3 separate regions of the Homo sapiens genome follow, and all the other regions are reported to be linked to region 1. The links are microRNA targets in miRTarBase. Many come from high-throughput screens and were not tested one by one. Region 1 holds a microRNA gene; each other region holds the end of a gene's coding sequence.
What was found. The annotated mature microRNA hsa-miR-4474-5p reads UUAGUCUCAUGAUCAGACACA and lies in region 1 at 2,588-2,608, shown strand. An mRNA with a match to its seed (bases 2 to 7 or 8) in the 3' UTR can be bound and repressed. Matches are read on the target gene's strand: a 7mer-m8 pairs with bases 2 to 8, a 7mer-A1 pairs with bases 2 to 7 and ends in A, and an 8mer does both.

Region 1 (7,000 bases):
AAAACATGGGTCTCATCAAGTTTTTCTACTTAAAAAAATAATTTTTTAAATTGAAAAATAAAAATTATACATATTTATAGTGTATAACATGATGTGGAAATCTGTATACATTGTGAAATGGCCAAATTGAGCTAATTAACATATGCATTATCTCAGGTACTCATCATGTTTTGTGGTGAGAAGACTTAAAATCCCCTTAATGTTTTTCAAAATAAAATACATTGTTATGAACTGTAGTCACCATATTGTACAATAAATCTCTTGAACTTATTCCTCTTATCAAGTGAAATTTTATATCCTTTGAACAACATCTCCCCAACTCTCCACCTGCCCCCACCCACCACCATTCTACTCTTTGATTCAATGAGTTCAGCTTTTTTAGATTACACATACACATGAAATCATGTGATTATTTGTCTTTCTGTGTCTGGCCTATTTCTCTTAACATAATGTCTTCCAGGTTCATTCATGTTGTTGAAAATGACAGGATTTCCTTCTTTTTAAAGGCTGAATAGTATTCAGCCTTTAATATAATTATATTTGTACACACACACACACACACACACAATTCCATTGGGGATATATATTTCACATTTTCTTTGTCCATTCTTCTCTTCATGGACACTTAGGTTGATTCCATATCTTGACTATTGTAACTAGTACTGCAGTGAAAATGGAAGTACAGATATCTTTTTGAAATACTGGTTTTGTTTCCTTTGGATGTATACACAGTTTTGGAATTGCTAGGTCAATAATTTAATTTTTGAGGAACCTTAAAATTTTCCATAATGGCTATACTAGTTTTCATTCCCACCAACAGTATACAGTGGATCCTTTTTCTCTGCTCTCTATATCCTTGCAAAAATCTATCTTCATCTTTTCGATAATAGCCATTCTAGCACGTGTGAAGTGATATCTCATTGTGGTATTAATTTGCATGTCTCTGATGATTAGTAATGTTGGGCATTTTTTCATACACCTGTTGCCTATTTGTATGTCGTCTTTTGAGAAATGTCTTTTCAAGTCCTTCACCCATTTTAAAATCAGGTTATTTATTTTCTTGCTATTGAGTTGTTTGAGTTCCTCATATATTTTGGATATTAGTCTTTTATCAGATGCATGGTTTGCATATATTTTTTTCCAGGCTGCAGGTTGTCTTTCAGTGTGTTGATTGTTTTCTTTGCTGTGCAGAGCTCTTTAGTTTGATGTAATCCCAGTTATCTATTTTTTTGTTTTTGTTTTTGGTTGCCTGTGCTTTTGGGGTCATATCCAAAGAATCATCACCCAGAATAATGTCATGGAGAATTTCTGCTATGTTTTCTTCTAGTATTTTTATGGTTTCAAGGTTTACATTTGAATCTTTAGTCCATTTTGAGTTGATTTTTATATTTAGTATGAAGTAAGGGTCGAATTTCATTCTTATGTGTGTGGTGTCCAGTTTTCCTAACACCATTTATTGAAGAGGCTGTGCTTTCCCCATTGTGCATTCTTGGCACCTTTGTTGAAAATCAATTGACTGTATATGTGTAGATTTATTTCTGGGCCCTCTATTCCATTCCATTGATCTGTGTGTCTCTTTTTATACCAGCAGCATGCTGTATTGATTACTGTAGCTTGGTAGTATACTTTGAAGTTAGATAGTGTGATGCCTCTAGCTTTGTTCTTTTTGCTTGAGATTACTTCAGATATTTGGGGTCTTTCGTGGTTCCATACAAATTTTAGGATTGTTTTTTCTATTTCTGTAAAAAATGTCATTGAAATTTTGATTGGGGAATCTGTAGATCACTTTGGGTAGTGTGGACATTTTAACACTATTAATTTCTCCACTTGTGAACACAGTATGTCTTTCCACTTATTTGTGTTGTCTTCAGTTTTTTTCATCAATCTTTTATAGTTTCTGGTGTACAGGTCTTTCAACTTCTTGGTTTAAATTTTTTCCTAAGCATTCTGTTCTTTTTGGTTGCTGTAGTGAATGGATTGTTTTCTTAATTTATCTTTCAGATAGCTCATTGTTAGCATATACAGATGCTACTGATGTTTGAAAAATGATGTTGATTTTGTTTCCTGCAGCTTCACTGAATTTATTTATTAGTTCTAACAGTTTTTTGATGGAGATGTTAGGGTTGTTTGTCTACAGTCATTCCTCAGTATCTGCAGGGGATTGGTTCCAGGACCTCCTGTGGATACCCAAACCCATGGATTCTGAAATCTCTGATATAAAATAGCATAGTATTTGCATATAACCTATGCACATTCTCCTGTATACTACACATTATCTCTAGATTACTTATAATAACTAATACATTGTAAATGTTATATAAATAGTTGGTATACTGTATTGCTTAGGGAATAATGACAATAAAAAAGTTCAGTACAGATGTAATTTTTTCTCCTAATATTTCAATCTGTGGTTGGTTGAATCCACAGATGTGGAACCCATGGATATAGACAAGCAACTGTATAAGATCACGTTGTCTGCAAGTTTTTTCACCTCTTAAAAATACTTGGTGGCTAGCTATTACCTGTAGAATTCAGCTCCTTACAGTGCTATGTAAGGAACATCACAGGCTGGCATTTGCCTACCTTGTTAGTCTCATGATCAGACACAAATATGGCTCTTTGTGGCTGGTCATGAGGCTAACAAGGTAGGCACCTGGAACCACACTTCAAGTCAGGTTCATTTGTGGTGCCCTGTCAAGCCAGGCATTCTGTATACTCTGGAATTTTTGCTTACATTTTAACTTTGTCAACAATCAGTACTCTTCGTTTTATTATTGTCAGATATTTACCTACTTTTCCTTAAAAGGTAGTCCCCCCCCCCCCCTTTTTTTTTTTTGAGATGGAGTTTCGCTCTTGTTGCCCAGGCTGGAGTGCAATGGCACCATATTGGCTTACTGCAACCTCCGCCTCCCATGTTCAAGTGAATCTCCTGCCTTAGCCTCCCCAGTAGCTGGGATTACAGGTGTGTGTCACCACCCCCAGCTAATTTTTGTATTTTTAGTAGAGACGAGGTTTCACCATATTGGCCAGGCTAGTCTCGAACTCCTGGTCTCAGGTGATCTGCCTGCTTTGGCTTCTCAAAATGCTGGGATTACAGGTCTGAGCCACCTCGCCTGACCTCTTGGGTGCGGTTTTTTTTTTTTTTTTTTTTTTTTTTTTTGAGACGGAGTCTCGCTCTGTCGCCCAGGCCGGACTGCGGACTGCAGTGGCGCAATCTCGGCTCACGGCAAGCTCCGCTTCCCGGGTTCACGCCATTCTCCTGCCTCAGCCTCCCAAGTAGCTGGGACTGCAGGCGCCCGCCACCGCGCCCGGCTAATTTTTTGTATTTTTAGTAGAGACGGGGTTTCACCTTGTTAGCCAGGATGGTCTCGATCTCCTGACCTCATGATCCACCCGCCTCGACCTCCCAAAATGCTGGGATTACAGGCGTGAGCCACCGTGCCCGGCCGGGTGTGGTTTTAACTGAGTCTCCTAGGTCTTAATGAGGGCTCCTTTGGATATTGTAAGTAATAATCATGGTTGTTGGTAAATTTGTCTTCATAGTTAGATGCCTTAACTATGTGAGGGGAAGGAAACTGTCTTATTTGCCTTCGTCACCTCACACATAGCAGAAGGCCTGGTATGTATTCAGTGTTCCATCAATATTTATTGTGTGGAATTTATTTTCCATTACATTTTATGGAGAATGAGAGAATCTTAAAGTAAATGAGGTGTCCTAGAAATGGTATATTTGAATAAAGATTTGTGACATCATGATTTATGGAAGTAGAAAGGGAAATATAGTAATTCCTAGGCATTTTAACTAGTGAATGGATACCATGAACCATAATTGGTAAATTATCCAAAAATCAATCATATTTAGCTAAGGAAAGTGGTGCACATGTGTGTGCATGTGTGTGTGTATCTGTGTGTTTTATAATGGGAAATTCACTTTAAACTAATGAAAGAATGATTTGAAACTCTGAATTATAGGCAATTCTTAATAATTATTGGGAGGGCTAGAGTGTAACCCAGGTTTCTGGGCATTGAACTTAAAGAAGACATTGAACTGGAGGGAGTTGAAAATGATGCAGCTGTGCATCAAGAGATTGCTATTAGTTTCTCTATATGACCTGTGGTAAGTAACTTCTGAATTCGGTTTTTGTAACACAGAACACCTGGAGGACCAAAGTCAATAGGGTATACTCAACTGTAGTAGACAAGATGGAAAACAGTATTGGGAGAAATAAGAATGGGGAAAATATTGAGCCTGGGCATGTCAGTGTATAGCTTTGCCTTAGAATTTAATTTGAACTGAGTGGTCAATAGTTCTTGATGCCCCAGGGAGAACTAGGATATATTCTGGGGCAAATTGAATTTTCCAAAGATTTCCGTAAAGTTATCTTTCACCCACATGCTCTTCTCACAGTTGATTTTGCTACTTCTGTCTTTGAGAGGTAGGGTCTTTGTCTTTTCTTTTTGAAGCTAGGTTGGCTTTTGTGCCTGTTTCAGCCAATAGAGTAGTGCAGAAATGATGCTATGTGATTTCTGAAGCTAGATCAGAAAAGGTGATGCTCCTTTCTTTGTTGAAATACGGTGTTCAGTTGTGAAACCTGCAGCCTTCATGTAAGCAGTCCAGCTGCTCAGAGGCCATTGTGTTGTGAGGAGAGACCAAGGGCCCTGAGAAGACCAACTGTATTAAGCAGCCAGACCTTTGCCCTGCTAGCCCTGCACCGCTCTTGCTTCAGGCACCATTTCAGTGCAGCCAAATGAGAAACTCTGAGCTAGAACCACACAATCAAACCTTTCTGAGTTCCTGACCCTCAGAGAAAGTAAAATGGCTATTACTGTTTTAAACTAAGCTTGATGGTGACTTATTATGTATCAATAGATAATTGGAACATGTTTCTTTGGAGAAGCATTTTTCCATTTTCTGTTAGGTGGTATTGAAGGAAGACAGGGATGGAATAAGAGGCATCTCTGAATGCAGATTTAGAGTTGTCACTGCATTAACACCTGTTCCCCCACATTTTTTTTTAAGAGACAGGTTCTTGCTATGATGTCCAGGCTGGATTCAAAGCCCTAGGCTCAAATAATCCTCTCGCCTCAGCCTTCTGAGTAGCTGGGACTACAGGAGGATGCTACATTTTTACACCCTATTTGGAGACAGAACAATAGAGATCTTAAAAGAAACAGTCATACAAGTTTTTTTCTTCATGTACCTTTACCTAACAGTTGTTAATAAGGGGACAGCTCAGGGTAGACCCTTAAGCTGAGCTGATTGTATTGCAAGGAATGCATCTATTTTGGGGAAATAAGACCATGGGTAAATTCTGCAAATGATTTCGAAGGTATCTCTATGAGAACAGTTATTGCAGCAAAAATGGACTGTTTCAAGGAGGTCAGAGCTTATGTCAAATAATTTATTGTTCAGTGTGTGTTTTTTTTAAAGACAATGTTTTTAGAGCAGTTTGAAGTTCACAGCAAAATTGAGAGGAAGATGTAGAAATATCCTGTGTACCCTCTCCCCTCACACATGCATAGCCTCCCTGTATCATTTACAGTGGGTTTTAAAAACATATTAAACACTAAATGCCTGTTATGGGCTGAGTTATATCCTCCCAAATATATGTTGAATCCTAACCCCAGGTACCTTTGAATGTGACCTTATTTGGAAATAGTGTCTTTTGTAGATGTGATCAATTTAGGATGAGGTCATCATGGATTACTGTTGGCCCAAGTCCAGTGACTGCTGTCTTTATGAGGAGATACTTTATATGAAGATACAGAGGCAGGAAGAAGCCCATGGGAAGATGGAGACAGAGATTGGAGTTATGCTGCTACAACTAAGAAATGCATTTCAAAGATTGCCAGCAACCTCCAGAAGCTAGGAGAGTCAAGGAAGGATTCTTTTCTAGAGCTTTCAGAGGGAATATGGCCCTACTGACACTTTGATTTCAGAATTCTAGCATGAATGGTTAAATTCCTGTTGTTTCAAGCCACCCTATTTGTGGTATTTTGTTACAATAGCCCTAGGAATCTAATACACTAATACTAAGGCAGTATGCTTTAGTGCTTAAAGTTATATTGAAACAATAAAAACAATTTGCTCTTCAAAAGTTACAAAAGTTAAGCCACAGCCTGGGAGAAAATATTTGTTAACATATGTCTGACAAGGGCATGAATCCAGATCAGGGGTGTCCAATCTTTTGGCTTCTTTGGGCCACATTGGAAGAAGAATTGTCTTGGGCCCCACATGAAATACACTACTGATAGCTGATGAGCTAAAAAAAATACAAATCACACACAAAAAAATCTCATAATGTTTTAAGAAAGTTTACAAATTTGTGTTGGGCCGCATTGAAAGCCATCTTGGGCTGCATGTGGCCTGTGGTCGGCGGGTTGGACAAGCTTGATCTAGATTATATGAATAACCTACAGCTGAATAATAAGATGGTTCAGTTATAAAATGGGCAAAAGATTTGAATAGACACTTCATCAAAGGAGATATACAGATGTGAAAGAAGCACAAGAAAAGATACTCGACATCATAAGTGATTAGGAAAATGCAAATTAAAACCAATAGAAGAGTATTACATTCTCAGTAGAATGGCTAAAATTTAAAAGACTGACCACACCAAGTACTGGTAAAGGTAGAACAGCTAGAAGAACTTTTTTTTTTTTTTTTTTTTTTTTTTTTTTTTTTTTTTTGAGACAGCGTCTCGCTCTGTCACCTAGGCTGGAGTACAGTGGCGCCATCTCTGCTCACTGCAGCCTCTGCCTCCACCTCCCAGGTTCAAGTGATTCTCTGCGTCAGCCTCCTGAGTTGCTGGGACTACAGGTGCATGCCACCACGCCCAGCTAATTTTTATATTTTTTAGTAGAGACAAAGTTTCACCATGTTAGGCAGACTGATCTCGAACTCCTGGCCTCAAGTGATCCACTCGCCTCACTGTCCCAAAGTGTTGGCATTACAAGCATGAGCCACTGCACCCATAGAAGAGTTCTTTTACCTAGCTGA
Region 2 (7,300 bases), not on the chromosome of region 1:
TTGCATACAGTTTTCTCTCTACAAGTGAGAGATAAAGATGGTCCTTATCCTGAGAGAGAGTTGGAGAAGAGAAGTCGTTTTATGATTTGGGGCACTTATGTTTTATTTTTAAGAAGAGTTTTGAGCATGTTTACAGATGGGAGAGAAGAAGACAAATTAAACGGAAAGATTAAAGATATATGTGTGTGTCTATGTATGTGCATGTGTGGGGAAAGGTTGTGGGGAGAGAGACTGAAAGAGTCAAAAGTAGCCTGGTCAGATTTGGAGAAGTACAGGAGTATCTTTTTCTCTAACAGAAGTGCAAAGATAGACTGGGTGGGCATAGATAAATTCTAGAAACTCATTATCTGATAGTCTGTATTACTTTGTGGAAAGTGGGTAGCTTCTACTAAGAATGATAGGTAGTGTGAGGTAGGATTTAGAAAGTGTCTTTGAAGGGCCATCAAATTTGGAGCTTATAAAAGGGAGATGATCCCAATTAGCCAAGTTTTGTGGCTTTTCTCAAATCATCAGGATCATAGCTAGATGCTTCCAGTATTACCTTTTTTTTTTTTTTTTTTTTTTTTTTTAGCGTCATAAACTGTCAGGACCTTAACAGGAAGGCGTGTGCCCTTGTATTCTCTTTAGTTGTCTCAGTTTTGCCTTCCTGGTGGGTGATTCAGAGTCACACACGGTAGGTAAGGTGTAGAGGTGGAGGGTTGGGGGTAAAGGAGGAGTGACAGCTTGTGAGGGGAATGATCTTGGTTGGGCCAGCTATTGGTCATACTAGCCTTGGAAATTCCACCCTTTTTACTCACCCACTTGTTATTTCTTCATCTACTCACCAAATATTTGTTGAGAACCTTGGTTTTAGGCACTAGAAATAAAATTCTGAGCATAAGTGGCAAAGTCGCTATTCTTGTGAAGTTTAAAATCTCATGGGGGAAGACAGACAAGCATCAAATAACCTCCAAGTACAGACCAACAGCGACATCAGCTACCTGCTGTGAAGGGGAAGGCCAGGTGCTATGTGGGTGGCACACGGCCTGTTTTGAGCCTTCAAAAAGAAGTGCTCGGATGTTGCCCAGGGCACAGCATCTTTTGGAGTTGCCCGGCTGTGTGTGGATGAAGGAAGGCCTCTGAGGACCTTAGTGGAGGCCCCCATGGCCCCCGGTGATTTTCAGATGACAAGTCTTTCATGTGTTAGGGCACATCCCCAAATCTGCAGAGCATTGAGCCCTTCTGCTCATTCGGCTGCTGGGAAGGCCAGCCTGAACCCTGCATGGTTGATTTTTTTTTTTTGAACACTGGGCAGCTGATTTATACTTTCACCCTTTGGCTGTTTCTGTGAAGGAGGAGTTTTAAACATATCCCCAGAATGGCCTCGTGGGCACACCATGGTTTCCTCCAAGAACACTCAGAGGGGTAGGAAAGGCAGAGGTGGGAAACGTACGCAGGCCGTGAACAGAAAAGGCAGAATATTCATTCCCAAGTTCGGTCTAAAGCCCATGGTTGACAACTTTCAAGAGATCTCACACTGTATGTTGTGCTGTTTTTGAAATGGGACTGAGAAGACTGAAAAGCAATCCTACAAAATGTTACCCGTGTTTATCTCAAGGGTGGGATCATCAGGTAGTTTCAGTTTCGTTGTTCTTCTTAATTTCTTGCAAATACTCTATTTTCGTGTACTACTGTGGCAAATAGAAGATAAACAGCAAACGTGATCTTTTCCAAGTGGCGTCTGTTTGGGAGCAGACATACCCTGAGGAGATGTTTCCCTGCCGGTAGCTTCTTTGAGGCGAGTTACTGTGAATCTCAACCGCGAAGCCCAGCTCAGGGTGTGGCGACAGCAGCCTCCCTCGGTGAGAGCAGCGGGCGGCAGGGATGGAGAAGGCGCCTGTGTCAAGAGATCCGAGGGGCTTCAGGGAACATTCGAGGGAGAAGGTCGTGAGGCTCAGCCCTGCACACTCTGAAGCCTCCACGTGTGTCAGGTGGGGGCGTGGGGTGGGGCAGGCCTTCCAAAATGACACTTTTGTTTTCAATTAAACATTATCTGCACTGTCCATGGGGCAGAGCTGTGATGTCCAGTGTGTGGATGGGGCTTGACTGTGAGGGCCTCAGACACCAAGCCCGCAGATTCCTGAAAAAGCTCCGGTTCAAAATTACCAAAGCCTTCCGGGTCAGGCTGTGGAAGTCAGTCAGGCTCCGGAAGCCAAGTTCCGGAAGTCAGTAAGGCCTCGGAAGTCAAGTCCTGGAAGTTGGGCTTGCAATCATTAGGTGGAGATATTGTTTGTTCTGTGCTCAGGTTTGTCATCCTCCTTAAATTCAAAGGAGATAGAAGCTGCAAATACTTGTCAGAGTTTAGGTGTGATCGGAAAGGAATTTTAAGAAACGTTTATTATGTTTCAGACAGCAGCAGCCTCCCTCATGATGCGGGAAGGCAATGTGGGAGGGAAACCCTCTGGGGGCCTGATTCAGCTTGGCAAGTGTAAGAGAGCACCCGATGAACTTCCCGTAGGTATCCAGAAAAGAGCAGACCCAAATCCAGACAGAATCTTCTTTTCATGTTGGTGGATGGGGGTGGGGAGGAGTAGGCACATGCGTCCAGTCATAGGCATTCCAGAGATTAAAAATGCAGGAGCAGAGGAGGAAAATTGGAGAGATTTTAAACATCAGGAAATGTCTGCATGGGCTATTATATAGTCTTTGGAGGAGGTGGAGAGAGTCCCCGCGCGACCCCTTCGCTGCTACAAGCCAGCCTCATCGTAAAGGGACTTGAGAGCAGCCAAGGGGAGGAGTATTTACAGGTCCCGCATTGGTTCAGAGGCGGAGGCGAGCAGGATGCGGCTTTCTTTCTGGGCTTTGCGTTTCACAGTGAGGATTTTAACACTAATCCTGGTAAAGCCTGCATATCAGCGGGGAGTCAGGGTAAAACAATCGAAAATGTGGTCCTTCCCATTGAATAACCTGTGACCTTACAGCAATTGAACTATTGGCTGCCATCACTGCAAGTTAATAACCTATTTTATAGAACGGAGCCTACAGACTGTTTGAAATGGCTGTTTTTTTTTTCTTTCTTTCTTTCTTTTTTTTTTTTTTTGAACAACATTCCTGCAGAATTCCCTGGAGTGAGACTCAGGACAATATTAAATCCAATGAATCACGCAGCTTTCAGGAGGGCAGGGCAGCACGCTGCAGAGCAGCACTGAATGATGGCTTGGCCTGGCGTCCCTGGTGGCAGCAGTGGCCGCACCAGGCACCGTGTTCTCATTCAACAAAGACTCAGGTTAGTGAGCGAGATGCCTGTACCAAATCTCCCTTCCCTCTTTTTCAAGTTTCTGGATGTTGTGTAATTCTTTTTTGCAGCATTCAGTTCTGCAAGGAGCCTAGTGAATGCTTCCATCAGTGGACTATGAAAGGCATCTGGACAAGCAGTTGCCTCATGGTCTGTACACAATTCATTAATTTGAAAATTACTCCCGGTGACTGTACCTTGCTCTCAGGTCAGACTCAACTAACTCCAGGGAGTCTCATGGTCGGGGCAGGGTACACAGGCCTGGATGGGTTTACTTTGACTGTGCTGTGCTTGCCTGGGCCTGATCAACACCTACCCTCCAGCCCCTGGGGAATTCTGCTCTGCTCCTTACCACTTATTGGCTTGCTCGTGTGAGGGCCTTAAAGGCCATGCTCCCAAAAGTGGGCCTTGAAGACTGGGCTGGCCAAGGGGCCTGGTGCTCCAGAAATTTACCAGAGCACTCAGTTCCATCTACCTCCTTTGGAGTGGTAAGTTGCTCATAGGACTTATGATTGTGCTCATAGGATGTAGTTAGAATGTCTAGTATGTCTGCCCAACTGGATAAGGACCCTGGGGGAAGGAACAGAAGATTTGAGGCCGTGATGCTCCCAGGATAGTTCAAACACAGGCAAGTCCAGCGGCATTGTCGCGGATTTGTTAGAATTGCACAATCTCTGGCCTCACCCAGACCTATGAATCAGAATCTGCATTTAACTAGGTCTGAGAAGTGCTGCTTTTTAAAACTCATCTAAAGTTGGGCAGAGTTAAGCATCCCTGCCCCTGATTTGTAGTGTGTGGCTGCAGTGGGAGCATCCTTGCCTCGCCCTAGTTTGCCGACTTCCTATGGAGGGGATACGGCCTACACAGCCCATTTCTCAAATGCCCATTTCTCCAAACACTCTCCCAGCTGTGACTCATTTGTGTGTCAGGTCTTCGAGTGATGACTCAATACTGAGAAACCCCTTCATGAAGTGTGTCCTTGTGGTCTGATGATGCCACATGCAGTGCTGATGGGACTGATTCATCAGTGATGTGGGGAGATTAATCCCACTCAACCCTTTGTGGGAAGCACTCAAGCTGGCTTCACAGAGCTTTATGTTGACAGAGCTGAGTCTCTCCTCTCCAAATGCCTGTTGGGAAGTACAGGTAGTGCAGATGCAGCCTGGGCGTGTCCTCTGAGTGGGACTAGATCCTTCATGGGAGGACTGAGGGATGTGAACCTGGGGCCTCGATTGTCATCACTGTCACTGCTTCTGAGTGCTTCCTTTTCAGTGTACCCAGGATTCATCTCCTAGTCTGGCAGTGAAGGAGCCTGCCATGTTTTGGTTTGATGCCTTGCCACCCCTGCATGTGTGAAGAGAAGAACACTATAGTGACAAATGAGATGAAAAATGGCTTCCAAGAACTTAATTCAAAGAATTGTAACAGGTCCCCTTCCATAAGCTGGTTTCTTTGTGAACACCATCCATTCATTGTTGACCTCACTGGGTTCACGTGTGATGCAGCGCAATGGGATCTGGACATGAATGTGGGAGATGAAAGACAAAGACAGACTGTTCCATCGGTGACAAGAACTCTGTGTGTGTGTGTGTGTGTGTATGTGTGTAAGAATAGTCTCCATTATAGTATTTTTCTCTGCGACACACAGATGGAGGCTGTGGTGTAAGAGTTACACCTCTGTCATTCCTCCACTTTGTTCCGGGGAGCCCAGCCATCTGCACTCAGGTCCTCAGGTGGATTTGCCCTTTGGTCGTCAGGCTGCACTGTGAGTTCTGAATCCCTGGCTCCCCAGCCGGACTCTTCAGTGCACAGCTGCCACAGGCAACCTGGACGAATCCAGCCAGGCGGATAGAGCAGGGCTCACCTCGTCAAGGACTTTGCAGCCGCCTTAACTTTGAGTCTCCTTGCTTCTGTCAGGAGGTGCCACAACCTTAGACGTAGCTCTTGTTGGTGTTAATTATTTCCTTTTCATTTCCAGCTGGCACAGAGCTTTAGCACCTTAAGTTGCTCAATTTGATCTCTGCACTCAGGAACAAGGTAATTAAGTCAGCCACAATATAAGAAAACTCATCTGCCTCGACTTGTTGCCCGTCTTCAGACAGTGCTCCATCCTAAATCATTTGATAATGTAAGAGGCTTGGTGCAGTTTTCTACTTGACTGAGGGTTAGTTCATTAGGTCACAATCAGTAATTGATTCTCAGTGTGTCTCTGCTGGTTTTATTACAGTAATGAGGACTGTCGGTTTTTTCATCTCCTCTAATATGTTACCCAAACCATCAGCTTCTCAGTTTGGTGTCAGGATGACTTTGACAGGTTGTTAGCAACTATATGATATACAGAACATCACAGAAATATCTCAAACTGTGTTGCTGTATACCACACAGAGCCTTAGGTGGTCCCGAAATAAGTGAAAGCACTTGCAAGGAAAAAGTTACAGCAGCAATTGAAAATATGACTACAGGCTTGATGTCCTAATGAAGAAGTTCTTTGCACTGCTGGATCTGTTTCGACACGCAGGGCAGATTTCGCAGGGTTGGGTGGCATCTGCAGCTCTCCTCCGGAATATTCCTGAACAGAAAAAGGAAGAGTGCCCCTCAAGAACAAAGCAGACATTATCATTGCAAAAAGTTACACGTTCTTCATTCTCTCTGTGGAGCTCCTTTTAAAAAGTGAGCAATAATCTGCTATCTCTAAGCAATCTGATTTCCTCTTAATTTCTTTTCATCTTGAGCAGGGGAAATCCATGGTATGAAGGCCATGAGAGAGAAACGTAGTGTCATTTATTCTGCTTCTGCTGTGTTCCTGGATGACTTCAAACGTAGAAAGCTGCAAGAGACAAAAGGGGGAAAAAGCATTTTATTTTTTTGATAGATATAATCAAAATATTACAATAAAATTGACCATTTGTTTTTATCTAATGAACACATTTTAAAATTTAATTTTTCCCCCCAAGATTTTGGAGTGTTTTGAGGCTGAGGATTATACTCACCGGAGCAAGTACTGTTTGATGGTAACAGGAATTTTGAGTTCAGAATAGCTAGGAACCCTGGAATAATTCTCTGAGAATGAAACACCAAAGGCCACAAAGACAGTAATGTAGGATGCACTGGCTTCTCAAAGCCCTTACTAGCCTTGTATAAAGGATGATAGATAGAAGTCGAGTATATGCGAACTCTGAAATAAACTCTCTTTCTGAACCTTTTCAAAAAGAAGCAGCACCAAAATAGTAGACCAGTCATAATGTTCCCCTAAAAACCAGAAGCCATGAGACCATTGGGCAAAGAACAAAGAGCTCAGGGGTTTGGCCTGACGGCCTCAAGAATGTGTTTTGTTACATGGTGGACACGGCTAACCGTTTTGCTGTCTAACTCACGAATGATGATCCTTGGAAGATGAGACTGTGAGATGTGTCCAAAGTTAGATTCACATGCATTGAGAAAAACATTTCTCCTACCCTGAGATTGCAGAGGAGGGACAGAGGCCTGGAGACAGCTCAGGGGTGGCTTTGCCTCACTGACATTGTGGGTGACATCGTTAGCCAGCTCCAGCACGCTGGCATGGCATCCAGAACTGCCACTTTAGCCCATGTTTGCAGCCTGATATTATGAAAATCTTTCATCAACACTAAAAATAATATTTAGCAAGCCTCATCGATCCTTCTTTAAATAAAGCACCTATTTTAGGTGGAGGTTAGCAATTTTATTCATAGGATTAATTTCATCCTACAAACTGCTGTGCAATGTCTGACAAAAGATCTTTTTATAAATTCAACGTTGGAAAATAAGTCATAATCCCATCTGCTCCCTTCATTTCTCCCTGCTCTATAGAAGGCATGCAGCAATACAAGGTCTCCTGCAGGCCGAGACAGGTAGAACAGATATTAATAAATCACCAGCAAATATATAGATGAAGGTGACAGTGGCTATAAGAAATCAAATCATTACACTTGTTCTGCTGCTACACACTGAGGGACTAGTTCTTGGCATAGAACATGGACCCCAGAATATCTAAACTTCCAAATGTCC
Region 3 (7,300 bases), not on the chromosome of region 1:
CACCCCAGGACCTGTTGTGGGGTGGGGGGAGTGGGGAGGGATAGCATTAGGAGATATACCCAATGTAAATGATGAGTTAATGGGTGCAGCACACCAACATGGCACATGTATACATATGTAACAAACCTGCACATTGTGCACATGTACCCTAAAACTTAAAGTATAATTAAAAAAAAAAAAGAATTTGTAATTTTCCTGTACTTTGTTCCTGCTATCCACCCTCTTCACTGTGCTGTAAAATACTCATTTTTAACTACTCCAAGTTCTTAGAAAAAAAACACAAAAAAGGAAAGTCTCAAAGGTATGATAGAATATCTTAGTCATTTCTGTGTATAAGCTGTTTGAGCTGCTAAAATTGCTTGCTGCCTTTAATTTCCATGTAGTACTTTATTGCTGACGTTGCCTCTGTTTTACAAAACTAGCAAATTTAATCAGCCTTGCATATAGGCCTACCTAATATTCGACTCTGTGTCCTAATAAAACATATTCATATATACACCCAACTCCCATATCTGGGTAATTTGGATAATTACAGTAGTTATCTGGATAAATTCACAACTACCTCATATATTACCCTCATAATACTGATGAGCTGAAATTCAAAAGAAAATCTGTCTACAGTGCTGAAGCAGCTATAATACTTATGGAACAGTTAAAATTGCTGAACAGGCTGGGTGCAGTGGTTCATGCCTGTAATCCCAACACTTCGGGAGGCTGAGGTGGGCAGATCACTTGAGCTTAGGAGTTTGAGACCAGCCTGGGCAACATAGAATTAATTTTTTGTAGAATTTTCTATTTCTACAAAAAATAGAAATATTATCTGGACGTGGTGACATGTGCCTGTAGTCCCAGCTACTTAGGAGGCTGAGGTGAGAGGATTGCTTAAGCCTGGGAGGTCGAGGCTGCAGTGAGCCATGTTTGTGCCACTACACTCTGGCCTGGGTGACAGAGTGAGACTGCCTCAAAAAAAGAAAAAAAAAAAGCTGAACATTGGCCCTATTTACAAATTCTATTATTTGAAACTTATTTTTCAGAAACAGCTTCATGAGTTTGCCATCACAGAGCCATTAGTCACTTTCCAAGGAGAGACTGAAAACAGAGAAAAAGTTGCCGCCTCACCAAAAAGTCCCACTGCTGCACTCAATGAAAGCCTGGTGGAATGTCCCAAGTGCAATATACAGTATCCAGCCACTGAGCATCGCGATCTGCTTGTCCATGTGGAATACTGTTCAAAGTAGCAAAATAAGTATTTGTTTTGATATTAAAAGATTCAATACTGTATTTTCTGTTAGCTTGTGGGCATTTTGAATTATATATTTCACATTTTGCATAAAACTGCCTATCTACCTTTGACACTCCAGCATGCTAGTGAATCATGTATCTTTTAGGCTGCTGTGCATTTCTCTTGGCAGTGATACCTCCCTGACATGGTTCATCATCAGGCTGCAATGACAGAATGTGGTGAGCAGCGTCTACTGAGACTACTAACATTTTGCACTGTCAAAATACTTGGTGAGGAAAAGATAGCTCAGGTTATTGCTAATGGGTTAATGCACCAGCAAGCAAAATATTTTATGTTTTGGGGGTTTTGAAAAATCAAAGATAATTAACCAAGGATCTTAACTGTGTTCGCATTTTTTATCCAAGCACTTAGAAAACCTACAATCCTAATTTTGATGTCCATTGTTAAGAGGTGGTGATAGATACTATTTTTTTTTTCATATTGTATAGCGGTTATTAGAAAAGTTGGGGATTTTCTTGATCTTTATTGCTGCTTACCATTGAAACTTAACCCAGCTGTGTTCCCCAACTCTGTTCTGCGCACGAAACAGTATCTGTTTGAGGCATAATCTTAAGTGGCCACACACAATGTTTTCTCTTATGTTATCTGGCAGTAACTGTAACTTGAATTACATTAGCACATTCTGCTTAGCTAAAATTGTTAAAATAAACTTTAATAAACCCATGTAGCCCTCTCATTTGATTGACAGTATTTTAGTTATTTTTGGCATTCTTAAAGCTGGGCAATGTAATGATCAGATCTTTGTTTGTCTGAACAGGTATTTTTATACATGCTTTTTGTAAACCAAAAACTTTTAAATTTCTTCAGGTTTTCTAACATGCTTACCACTGGGCTACTGTAAATGAGAAAAGAATAAAATTATTTAATGTTTTAATATGTCTAGTGTATTCGTGTATATATAGATATTCTAAGATTCTTGTTTAAAAAAACAAATGTGTTGGACATAATCAAAATTCAAGATTTTCACAATAAAATATTTAAGACATAATTCAAAGCACATTATCAAAAAAGTGAAAATACAACCAACAGAAAGAGAAAAAATATTTTCAAACCATGTATCTGATAAGGGTCTAGTATCCAGAATATATAAAGCACCATTACAACTCAATAAATAGATATTCTAAGATTCTTACCCCCAAGGACTTATCAGGGGTTACAGATTAACACTCAGTGTAAGATGATAAGGCAGTTAAGGATACATCAGAACCGAAAACTATGTGAAGGAGTTAGAAGGAGTAGATGCTTTCACGCATCTTTCTTAAATAAATAACTCTTTATCAATAAATATGAATTTGAGTTATTTGTTACAGAGGCAAAACAATAAGCATGCCAAATTATATAGGGTTTTTTTTTCTAACCATAGAAATTATACAGATCTGTTGATGGAAATAAAATTTTGCCATTACTGTTAATCCCAGGCTCACAAGATCTTCAACTACAGTTGAACAAAAGATATGGACATATTCAGCCGCATAGTTCTTATTCCGATCCACAATGTTATAGCAAAGACCATAGTATTAAATCATAAATATATGCCATAAGGAAGTTGCTCCCCTTACAACTTTAAAGCAAGCCAGTATTACCTCTAGTTTGTAGATGTGGAACATGTCTTGGTCATCCAGTGAGCAGTGGAGTCAAGCAGAACCCAGGCCTTTGGTCCGTGCCTGTATGGAACAAGAGATGTGGTCTCATGGGATAACTGGCCAGGACATAAACCATAACAGAAGCGCCAGCCTGATGACCTCTGAAGTTTGATTCCCAGAGCCACAGGGTGATCTGGAGTTTGTTTCAAGACTCTTGTACTTTCTGTGTTTCACTGGAGGGCTGTACTTAGCTTTCCCTGCTCACTTTAGCCACCTACATCTGGGCACCAATATCAAAAAAATAACTTTGGAAAAATTGGGCAGGCTTCTTGTGGAGCTCTGCTACTGTAGAGGGGGAATTTATATATTTCCGAAGAGTAGATGATTTAGAGCAGGAAGGATTCTACTTTCCCAGATCATGTTACCAAAGCAAGGGTCAATAAAAGGCATCTTCAAGACCTGAAAATCTTCAAGGTTCTCATAATTGAAGACTTTTTTTTCCCCCTTCACTGTCCACCTTTTTTCTTGGCAGATAACCGCTTACCCTTAGGGCATGTTTTCTTCTGTGGGACTGTAAACTACCAGAAACCATGCTAGATACTTTAACTACTTATACTCATTAGCTCTTCCTTGCAAATCTGTGAAGTAAAGTGCTAGCACCAGCACCATTTTTCAGATGAGAAAACTAAGGCTTGCAGAGAGTGAACAATTTGCCCAAGGTCACCACTGATAAGTAGTAAAGAAAGGATATAAACTCAGCTCAGTGTGTCGCAGAGTTCATCTCTCTCCATTGTACAGTTACATTCCCAACCAACATGCTGGGGCTGCCATGCCAGGATTACTCCACTCTGTTGCTTTTTATTAAAAAATTATGTTACATATTTTATTACACAATTATTTTACATAAAATAAAATGTACAGATCAATGAGTTTTGACAGATGTATATATATATCATTGTAATCATCAGCCAAATAAAGTTATAGACTCTACCAACATTTCTGAAAGTTTCTTTAATTACTTCTAGTCCAGAATCCCCTCCTCCCAGAGGCAATCTAATTTATTTTTATTTTTATTTATGTATTTATTTTTAGAGACAGGGTCCCCTCTGTCACCCAGGCTGGAGTGCAGTGGTACAGTCATAGCTCACTGCAGTCTTAAACTCCTGGGCTCAAGTGATCCTCCTGCCTCAGCCTCCCAAGTACCTAGGACTGCAAGCATATGCCACCATGCCTTGCTAATATTTTTAATTTTTTATAGAGACATGGTCTCATTGTGTTGTCCAGTCTGGTCTCAAACTCCTGGGCAAATGCAATTCTCCTGCCTTGGCCTCCCAAATTGTTGGGATTACAGGTGTGAGTCACCGCACCTGGCCCTATTTATCTTAACACATGCTAAATTAATAACTACACTAATTAACTAAATTACTAAATGCCACAATAAATTAACAAAATTAATAAGACTAATGCTGGAGTGTTATTGTGTCTTGAAATCAGGGTAAGTCCCCCAACTTTATTCTTCAAGAATGTCTTGACTAATATAGGACATTTCCATTTTCATATACATTTTAAAATCAGCTTGTCAATTTTTACAAAAGTTTCCTGGAATTTCCATTGGGATAGTATATATCTATAGATTAATTTCTCAAAAATTGACATCTGCACAATCCAGAAACATTTCTTCATTTAGTTCTTTTTTAGCTGCTCTCAGCAATGTTTACAGCTTTCAGTGCATAGAGCTTAGCCTTTTATTAAGTTTATTCTTGAAAGTCTGAGTTTTATGCTATTATAAATGGCCTTTTAAAAATTTATTTTCCAGCCAGGCGCAGTGGCTTACACCTGTAATCCCAGCACTTTGGGAGGCCGAGGTGGGTGGATCTCTCGAGGTCAGGAGTTCGAGACCAGCCTGGCCAACATGGTGAAAACCCATCTCTACTGAAAATACAAAAATTAGCCAGGAGTGGTGGTGTGCACCTGTAATTCTAGCTACTGGAAAGGCTGAGGCACAAGAATCACTTGAACCCAGGAAGTAGAGGTTGCAGTGAGCCAAGATCATGCCACTGCACTCCAGCCTGGGCAACAGAGTGAGACTCTGTCTCAAAAAAAAAAAATTATTTTCTAATTGTTTGTTGCTAGGGTTAGAAATGCAACTGATTTTTGTATATTGACCTAGTAGCATCCTGGAATCTTATTAATTTATTAATTAATTTTAGTATTTTCACCTCTCTGAATTCAAATATTGTATTTTACAGTTCTAGAACAGTGCTGTCCAATGGAAATATGCAAGCCTCATGTAATTTTGTTTTCCAGTAGCCACATTAAAAAATACTAAAATAGACAAGGGATGGTGGCTCACTTCTGTAATCCCAGTACTTTGGGACGCCAAAGCAGACAGATCACTTGAGCCCAGGAGTTTGAGACCAGCCTGGGAAACATGGCGAAACTCTTTGTACCAAAAAAAAAAAAAAGAAAGAAAAAAAAAATTAACTGGGAATGGTGGTGCATGCCTGTAGTCCCAGCTACTCAGGAGGCTAAGGTGAGAGGATCACTTGAGCCCAGGAGCTGGAAATTGCAGTGAGTCAAGATCATGCCACTGCACTCCAGCCTGAGTGACAGAGTGACACCCTGTCTCAAAAAAAAAAAAAAAAAAAGAAAAGAAAAGTAAAACAACAACAAAAGTAGTAAAATAGCCAGGTGCAGTGGCTCATACCTGTAATCCCAGCAGTTTGGGAGGCCAAGGGAGGAGGATCACTTGAAGCTAGGAGTTCGAGCCTGGCCTGGACAGCAAGGAGACCCCTCCATCTCTACAAAAAATAAAAAAAGTAAAATAATTGGTGTAGTTAATTTTAATAATATGTTTCATTTAACTATACATATCCCAAATATTATCACTTAACATATAATCAATATAAAAACTATTAATGAGCTATTTTATGCTAAATCTTTGAAATTTAGTATTTCAAAATTACTGCACATCTCAATTTGGACTAACCACACTTGAAATGCTCAATAGCCACATTGTGGCTGTCGTGGCTAAGGGCTACCATGTTGGATAGCATGGATCTAGGATCTCTCTTCTTTTACTAGAGTTCCCATTTCTCTTCTGAGTTCTCTATTCACCCATTCTGTCCATTTCTTCCTGTAAATTCTTTAGCATATTCATAGCAGCTTAAAACAGTTAACATAGATGCTAATTCCAACATCTAGGTCATCTATGTGTCTATTTTTATTGGCTAATTTTTCTCATTATGGGTCACATTTTTTGTGTTTCTATACATGTCTATTAAATTTTTTAGTATAGGAGTGACATTGTAGATGATACATTACAGAAATTCTGGATTATTTTCCTTTTGAGAATATACAGTTGTGTTCTTGGAGACTCAAATTGCCACATTTGTTTAGGCTGTATTTCACCATGCACTGTCAGGACTAAATAATACTCATGGGGGAAAACCAGTTAAATATAGAACTCACTTTGCTTCCCTTCTTTCAAGAGCCATGGCCATTCCAGTGGCTGCCTGCCTTTGGTTGTTCTTCATTGCCATCAACAGTTGTTTTTCATATTTTGTCCAGAGTTTATAATTGTTATTGAATAGTGGGTTAGTCTGATAAAAGCTACACTGTCATTACCAGAACTGGAACCATCTACTGGTTTTGGTATTTTCTGTTGTTGTTGTTTTGTTTTCCTTTTTTATTTTATTTTATTTTTTTTCTTAAGAAGTCTGTTGTATTTGAGCAGGAGTTTATGCTAGGAGCCATATTCTGTGTGTGCATGTCCAGCCTCCAACAAACCCACAAACTGGTGATTCCTTGGTGACTTTAATATCAGCAAACGTAACTCTCGTCCTCAGATAGAAGGCAGATGGAGGTAAATGGAGAAGGGAGGGAAGGATAAATGAGTTATAGGATCCATTGCTTTCACCAAGAGCTTAATGTTTTAAAGGCAGGGGCTACATGATAGAAAAATACATTCAAAGAAGAGAACTTCATGGGAAAAACTAAAACCTCTGAGTTTCCCACTATGTGCTAAATTTGTGGTTATGTGTTACTTTGTCAAGGGCTACAGCTAGCCACTTGGATTTTTTGTTTTTTTGTATTTTTTTTTTTTTTTGAGATGGAGTTTCACTCTTGTTGCCCAGGCTGGAGTGCAATGGCATGATCTTGGCTCACCGCGACCTCCACCTCCTGGGTTCAAGCGAGTCTCCTGTCTCAGTCTCCCGAGTAGCTGGGATTACAGGCATGTGCCACCATGACTGGCTAATTTTATATTTTTATTAGAGACGGGGTTTCTCCATGTTGGTCAGGCTAGTCTGAAACTCCTGACCTCAGGTGATCCGCCCGCCTTGGCCTCCCAAAGTGCTGGGGTTACAGGCGTGAGCCACCGCACCCGGCCCAGCTAGCTACTTTGACAGCCAAG

Region 2: miRTarBase lists SMIM21 as a target of hsa-miR-4474-5p. Seed matches in the 3' UTR shown: 7mer-m8 at 4,886-4,892.
Region 3: miRTarBase lists CEP55 as a target of hsa-miR-4474-5p. Seed matches in the 3' UTR shown: 7mer-m8 at 1,478-1,484.

What each region holds. Positions count from the first base shown.
Region 1 is chr9:20,497,918-20,504,917 of GRCh38, reverse strand. MIR4474 (microRNA 4474) reads left to right here and starts at 2,576; the gene lies at 2,576-2,653. All of the region lies in intron 2 of MLLT3 (MLLT3 super elongation complex subunit), which reads left to right.
Region 2 is chr18:75,404,809-75,412,108 of GRCh38, forward strand. SMIM21 (small integral membrane protein 21) reads right to left here. Exons shown (of 3, transcript NM_001037331.3): 3 at 4,668-6,101. The coding sequence ends at 6,056. It overlaps LOC105372200 (a long non-coding RNA gene), which reads left to right and starts at 638. Exons shown (of 4, transcript XR_935636.3): 1 at 638-2,284; 2 at 3,097-3,265. RefSeq lists an enhancer at 3,652-4,851.
Region 3 is chr10:93,526,916-93,534,215 of GRCh38, forward strand. It overlaps CEP55 (centrosomal protein 55), which reads left to right. Exons shown (of 9, transcript NM_018131.5): 9 at 1,035-2,177. The coding sequence ends at 1,238. Among named protein-coding and RNA genes, the nearest start is that of CEP55, 34 kb to the left of the region's middle.